Homo sapiens: one gene and its partner. Changing the gene in region 2 together with the main gene of any one other region gives a genetic interaction. Each region holds a gene or a part of one and is shown on either strand. Other genes may lie near its edges.

What was found. A genetic interaction does not mean that the proteins touch.
Region 1: of POLR1B (region 2) and ATG10, changing one suppresses a phenotype caused by changing the other (phenotypic suppression), as found in Homo sapiens cells (one large-scale study listed by BioGRID).

The regions. Positions count from the first base shown.
Region 1 is NC_000005.10:82,051,935-82,055,752, forward strand, and holds part of ATG10 (ubiquitin-like-conjugating enzyme ATG10), read left to right. Parts: intron 1-3,297; exon of another isoform or gene 3,298-3,400; intron 3,401-3,818. UniProt on the Homo sapiens protein: E2-like enzyme involved in autophagy. Acts as an E2-like enzyme that catalyzes the conjugation of ATG12 to ATG5. ATG12 conjugation to ATG5 is required for autophagy. Likely serves as an ATG5-recognition molecule. Not involved in ATG12 conjugation to ATG3.
Region 2 is NC_000002.12:112,569,815-112,573,632, forward strand, and holds part of POLR1B (DNA-directed RNA polymerase I subunit RPA2), read left to right. Parts: intron 1-2,747; coding exon 2,748-2,944; intron 2,945-3,747; coding exon 3,748-3,818. UniProt on the Homo sapiens protein: Catalytic core component of RNA polymerase I (Pol I), a DNA-dependent RNA polymerase which synthesizes ribosomal RNA precursors using the four ribonucleoside triphosphates as substrates.

The sequences.
Region 1 (3,818 bases), on a different chromosome or scaffold from region 2:
CTGATAGTATTGGTTTGATCTTCTACAGCAGCAAAGAACAGTCACTTGAGATCTGTGGCCTAGGTTTGACCTATTCCTCAGGGCTCCACTGACCTTGAAGGCCTTGTTTGATCAGTGCTGGCATTGACCTAGAAACTTCAGTTGTCTTCCTCCTTTATGGACTTGTCAAGCCCTTCCTGCAGTTGATCATTCTGGGCAGTTAACTTGAGTTGAAGTCGTATATAAAATGCCTTATTCTGAAGTAGAGCTTAGACCCTTAGATAACCACCCATTTTCTTTTAGATGTGTCTAGAGAAGATCTTGTTAAACTCAGCAACAAAAGCCCTATAATTATTTTGTTAGCTGGATTCCAGCAGGCATAACATAGCTTGCTGGGTGGCATAGCCCTATGACAGCTTGTACTAAAACAGACCCAAACGTGTTCTATCAGGAAATCCTTAGATCTCCATCCAAAATGCAATCGGCACTACACTAGAAAACTTGCTTGTCTCTCTTGGATTCTATAAGACCTATAGGACATTTTCTCCTTAGAAGTTTAAGATTGGAATCTACTCTGGCAATGTGGTGGCCTGGAGGCATATGTGCAAAGGGCAATTAATTATTTGTTTAAAATGAAGTGCCATGTATTTATAGGCACAAAAGAGGTTTTACATTAAAAAGTTAAGTCTCCTTTCTAACCCTTCTACTTTCCTTACTCAAACCTTTAGAGGTTGCCAGTGATACCATGGTCTTGGGTATCTTTCCGGATATATTCAGTGTACACATAGCCTGTACAGTTACATTTAAACATATGGTAGCATGCATATATTCATACTGTTCTGCGCTTTAAAAAATAACTTAATGGTCAGCCTTGGTCATTACTCAATATTTACAGAACTCATTCATTATTTTTGTGGTTACATACTATCCCATTATTTGGACATAAAATAATTTATTTAGCCAATCTTCACTGATGGAAATTTAGGTTGTTTCCAACCTTATACTATTAAAATAATATGTTAATAATCATTTGTATGAATTTTATTTACTACATATGTGACTATATCCATAAGGTAAATTATTAGAAGTAACATTTCTGGATCCAAGGTGTGTGCATTTTAAATTTTGATAGTTTTTGCCAACCTGCTCTTCAGGGATCTTATGCTAATTTTAACTCCCCTGCCCCAGCAATGTATGAGAGTGCCTGCTTGTTTTATCCATGTCTTTGTCTATACATTCCCTTTCATACTTTTTGATCTTTGCCAATCTGATAGGTAAAAAATGTTATCACAGTTTTTAATTTGCATTTTTCTTATGGCTAACATTGAACATATTTTTATCTACATGTATTTCCTCTTTAGTAAACTATCTGTGTATCCTTTGCTCATTTTCTTATTGGGCTATTGGACCCCTTCCTGTTGATTTGGTGGAACTATTTATATTTTGAGGAAATTAAAGCTATTTTATATTGAAAAAATTAGTTCTTTTCTATGATATGAGCTACAAATGCTTTTTCACATTTTGATATGTCTTTTGACTTTATGGTGTTAAGAATTCGTTGCATGCCGTAGAATTTACCAGTCTTTTATGACTTCTGGGTTTTTATCATATTAAAAAATATGTGTTCTCCTATATTTTCATCTAGCATATTTGGGGTTTTTTTCTCATTTAAATATTTCTTATTTTGGTCTTAGGTGAAGGGCATTCTATTTAGATAACTGGAAGAGTTTTGGCTGTGAGGAAGTATTCTCTTTATAATGAAAGTTGTTTGGGTTATAACAGCTGGACATTTCTTATTAATTATTCTTCTACAGTGACAGAGTGAAGCATCATGCTTTGTGGTGAATGGACAGCAAGGAGACCTAATAGCTGAAGTGTAGTTGGACTTGGAGCAATTTTAAGTTACAAGACTACTGGCAGTTTCAGAGGGCCAGGTCAAGACTGGCCAAGTTGCCAGAAATTAGTTTTTCGGGCAGTAGTAAAGACCACTTCAAAGGCAGTCTCAGCATGGTCAAAGCTCCAAGAAGAGAGCATTAACAGAGGTGATTTTAGCATTTGGAGAACTCCAGATGAGCTATGGTGTTCATGAAGATCTTGAGTTGTTTGTGGACTTCTCTCCTGAGGTAGCTGCAGATTACCTGATTGACTCTGTTCATTGAGTTCAAAAGAGGGTCTCCAAGGAATTGAGTGCAGTGGTTCTCAACTCTGGCTGCTGTGCTGGAATCTGCTAGGTAGATTCTGACTTAATTGGTCTGAGGTGAGACACCAGCAACAGTTTGAAAACTCCACAGGTGGTTCTAATGTGCAGCTTGGATTGAGAACCATTGTTAATGTAGTCAGTTTGCTGTCTCTTTGAGTCAGGGATTGCAGTACATGCCTCAGTGCTTCCAAAATGTGCATACATATCACCTGGGGATTATGTTTTAAATGCAGAATCAGGAGGTCTGGGGTGAGGCTTGAGATTCTGCCTGTCTGTCTTAATGAGCTCGCAGCTTATGCTGTGGCTGGTCCCCAGACCACACTTGAGTGGCTTGAGTTTGTTACTTGAAGTGCAAAGCACTGGCCCACACCAGTCCACGAGAGTCAATAAGCCATGGTCCTGCTCTCTTGCAGAATTTGCTTAGTGTACTACAAAGAATACTCAGGTCAAGAGATCCGCTTTCCACTTCCTGCTCTGCCTCCAACTAATTAGTGTAAGACAAGTTTCTTAGAAGTGCTTTAGTCCTTCACCCTCTTATCTCTAAAATGAGAGGCTTGAATTGGATAAACTTGAAGGTTCCCTTTGTTTTTAAATCCTCTCATGCTTGTCCAGGATGTTTTCAGACTCTTTCTGGATCAGGTTGTTATGTGGGATGGAATCTGGATCCTGTAAAGACCTTGTCATCCCTTAGAGGATGGAGGCCTAGGCCCTGAGCTTATGATCTAGTGGGAGAAATAAAACTAACAAATGTTAAAAAATTAAAGAAGAGTTAAATGTTCAAGTGTAAGCTATGATAAGTACAAAAAGAATGCAGGGAAGCTAGAGAGGAGTGTTAATTGGAATGGTCAGGAAAACTTCATTGCCAAGGGGGAATTTGAGTTGACATCGTTTTTTCCTGGGCTGGGTGGACTGCAGGGCTGACAAGAGTGGTGGTTCTCCTGCTTTTGAGTTTGCTTGTCTCTAAAAAAGCATCCTTCAACAGTGAAGCACAAAACATATTTTTCTGCCTTAAATTAAAACAAAGTAGAAGAAACATCTAGTTCTGTGGAAGTCTTTAAAGGGAAATCAAAATCCAAAAAACTCTATATTTAATTTTTCAAGGCTAATCTTGACTGAGAAGATTGATACTGAAAAAAAATCACCACTACCAAATATAGAGCAAAAAACCCAGCGTACTTCCGTATCGATAATAAAAAAATGGTATTAGAAATTACCTAAAATGTAAGTAAATTCCTCAAATTATAAGTATTATTGAAAGTGACATATCTCTTTATCTTAACTAATTGGGAAAGAGACCAGATAATTTATTTAGATTTTATAACATAGGTGCACACGAATTTTTGACTCACCTCTTTTAATGTCAAAGGAGATGTATTTTGCATTGTTATTAGAATTTTACTAAATTTTATGTTCCCTTAAGAGGAGGTTATGTGACCAGGGCTCAGGTATTGAAAAATACAAAATAGAGCAGTTACCCTCATTTAATGAGCTATATTTAGTACACACAGTGCAGCTCCGTGTTCTCTGAATATCCTGAGAGTTTTGGTTTTTATCTCTATGGCTAGATCATTTTGAAATTGCAGACTTTGGGTAATTTTTCTCTCAAACACATGCTATTATAGTTTTACCGTATAGTCAT
Region 2 (3,818 bases):
CTCCCAAAGTGCTGTATTACAGGCGTGAGCCACTGCGCCCGGCCTCAAATTTTGTTTTTTTTCAGTTTAATTAAATTGCTAAACTCTTCTGTCATTATTTTTAAAAACATTGCTCCTATCCTTTTCTCTCTTTCCTCCTCTTCTATCAGTTATTCATATATTTAAACCTTTTGATATTGTTCCATAAGACATTGAGTTTCTGTTCTCTTTTTTCTTTATTTTCTTCAGATTGGATCTTTTTTTTTTTTTCCCGAGATGGAGTCTCACTTTGTTGCCCAGACTGGAGTGCAGTGGTACAATCTCGGCTCACTGCAACCTCTGCCTCCCATGTTCAATAAATTCTCCTGCCTCAGCCTCCTGAGGAGCTGGGATTACAGGCACACACCACCATGCCCAGCTAATTTTTGTGTTTTAGTAGAGATACGGTTTCACCATGTTGGCCTGGCTGGTCTCAAACTCCTGACCTGAAGTGATCTGCCTGCCTCAGCCTCCCAAAATGCTGGGGTTACAGGTGTGAGCCACTGCACCTGGCCCAGATTGGATTATTTTTATTGACCTATTATCACAGTCACTTTTTATTCTGTCTTCTACTGAATTTTTGCTTACAGTCATGTGCCCTTAACGACAGGGATACCTTCGAAGAAGTGAGTCATATGTGATTTTGTCGTAGTGTGAACATCATAGAGTGAACTTACACAAACCTAGATGGCAGAGACTACTACACACCTAGTATATGGTATAGCCTGTTGCTCCTAGGCTACAAACCTGGGTGGCATGTAACTGTACTGTGTACTGTCTACAGTTGTAAGACAATGGCAAGGATTTGTGTAGCTAAACATAGAAAAGGTACAGTAAAAATATGGGATCACCATAGTATATATGCCATCCTGCATTGACTAAAACATTGTTATGCAGTGCATGCCTGTATTTTTCAAGTCCAGCACTTCTACTTGTTTCTTTTTTTTTTCTTTTTTTTTTTTTTGAGACAGGGTATCGCTCTGTCACCCAGGCTGGAGTGCAGTGGCACGATCTTGGCTCACTGCAACCTCTGCCTCCCCAGTTCAAGCAATTTTCCTGCCTCTACCTCCTGAGTAGCTGAGATTACAGGCATGTGCCACCATGCCCAGCTAATTTTTTGTATTTTTAGTAGAGGCAGGGTTTTATCATGTTGGCCAGGCTGGTCTCAAACTCCTGACCTCAAATGATCTGCCTGCCTCAGCCTCCCAAAGTGCTGGGATTACAGGCATGAGCCATTGCGCCTGGCCTGACTTGTTTCTTTTTTTATAGTTTCTTTCTTCTCTAAGATTTCTTATCTTCATTCATTGTGGGCATGTTTTCCTTTATATTTTGAACATAGTTTTATATGATGGGTGTTGTAAAATCATTATCTGCAGATTCCAATGTCTGGGTCATCTTAGTATCAGTCTCTTTGAGTATAAGTCAAGTTTCACCATTTCTTTGTATGCCCAGTAATATCGGATTGTATTATGAACATTGCGAGGAGTATGTTTTAAACCCTGGATCCTGTTAGGGTCCTCTGAAGAGGATTGGTTTTGTTTGTTTTTAGTGTGGTGTTTGGCCTTCAATTACATTTTAATTTTTTTCATTTTATGTCTTTCCTTCTTAATACACAGTCCATCACCTGGTTCAGTGCATGTCACCAAAAATTCTCCAGGGGAAGAGGATTGGTTTTTAGTTTTCACTGGTACTTAACTTGGTGAACGTGGCAGTTGAAGTACATTCTTCAGCCTTAGGTGGGCTGCTGTGATCTGTCCCATGCATGCATAGTTCAGGAGTCCACCAAAGATTCGGACCCAATTTATATGCTGAATTTAAGGGTCTCCCTTTGTGGTTCTCTCATTTCTGAAATGTTCCCCCTTCCCAATTGTTGTCATGCTCAGAACTCTATTTCTTGGTTCTTCAAGCCAGTAAGATTGTGGGTTTCTATCTAAGTTGTAGCTGCCACACTGGGCCATAAGGCAAAAATAAATACATAAATACTTAAAAACCTGGAAATTCACCCAGTGTGTTCCTTTTGTCCAAGTAAAAATTCTTCTCAGCTTCTGACAGCTTTTGGTTACTCTCCAGTGCTGTATGTGTAGTTGGGGGTCTGCGTCTCATACTTATGTGTTGAGGGTGGTCTAGTAAGAGTAGCCCTTTATTACTGGAAGCTCTAAGTCTATAATTTTTTTAAAAATTTCACTTGTATGTATTTATATTTTAAAATCATTTTGTCGTGAAATGATTCTCTGTACTGTGAGGTAGTACACAGAGGAATCTCACCCCATGCTCCACTACTTAGAATTAAATACATATTCCGCTGTAAGAAAGTAATCTAATTACGTAATAATTCCTATCCCCTTTTCTTCCCCGAGTAGTGATAGCCTGTAATTTGCGTACTTCCTTTCTGTCCCCTTCTAAAGCTTTTATTACATCATACATGTATCCATAAACTAAGTATAGAATTGTTTGGGGTGTGTTGCAAATACACATAAATCGTATCATATTAAATGTCAGTCTGCACTTTCTCCCACTCAGCATGGTTTTCCTGGTCTGGTCACGTTGATACATTTAGGTTTACTTCATTTTCACAGCTTATGTATTAGTCTAAAGTAAGCATAACTACCATGACTATTTATTTGTTCATTTTCCTCTGATGGATATTTAGTTGTTTCCAGTGTTGCGTATCACACCTATAATCAAGATGAAAGCAGCAGAAAATGCTAAGATGTTTTTTCTCCATGTAGGTAAGCAAACTATGGGCTTTCCACTTCTCACTTATCAAGACCGATCGGATAACAAACTGTATCGTCTTCAGACTCCTCAGAGTCCCTTGGTGAGACCCTCCATGTATGATTATTATGACATGGATAACTATCCAATTGGGACCAATGCCATCGTTGCTGTGATTTCTTACACTGGCTATGATATGGAAGATGCCATGGTAAGTTTTACCAGGAAATGTTGTTCCAATCTTTTTATTTTTTAACTTGTTTGTTTACTGTGAAATCACTGAAGGAATATTTTTGTGTACCCAAGTACCTAGTATTTGGCACGTGATGTTCTATTAAATGATTAGTTCTTAGTCTAAGTTGAAAGTGGGCAAGCCTTGAGGAATATCCACTAAATATTCAGATACACGTATGTCTTGCATATTTGAGTGCATATTATGAGTAAATTTTGAAGTTTGGTTTTGGATCTATCTACCTTTTATATTTAAGTATGATTAGATTTTAAGCTATTTCTGTGTGCCTGGGTTTTTGTTTTTCTTGTTTTTTGTTTGTTTGTTTTTTGTTTTTTATTTTTGAGACGGAGTCTCGCTCTGTTGCCCAGGCTGGAGTGCAGTGGCACGATCTTGGCTCACTGCAACCTCCACCTTCTGGGTTCAAGCAGTTCTCCTGCCTCAGCCTCTCGAATAGCTGGGACTACAGGCACCCATCACCATGCCTGGCTAATTTTCGTGTTTTTAGTAGAGATGGGGTTTCACCATGTTGGCCAGGCTGGTCTCGAACTCCTGACCTCAAGTGATCCACCTGCCTTGGCCTCCCAAAGTGCTGGAATTACAGGCGTGAGCCACCGTGCCCAGCCATGTCTGGGTTTTTGTAGTTAGTATCAGTGATTTGGAAAATGTGAGGAAAGTTAAAATGTGATGCCAGTTATCCTAAACCAAGTATGATAGTCCCACCTAGTTTTATTTTGAAAATCCTCAATTGGCCTCAGTCTTTTAACGATTCTTTTACTTCACAGATTGTGAATAAGGCCTCTTGGGAACGAGGCTTTGCCCATGGAAGTGTCTACAAGTCTGAGTTCATAGACCT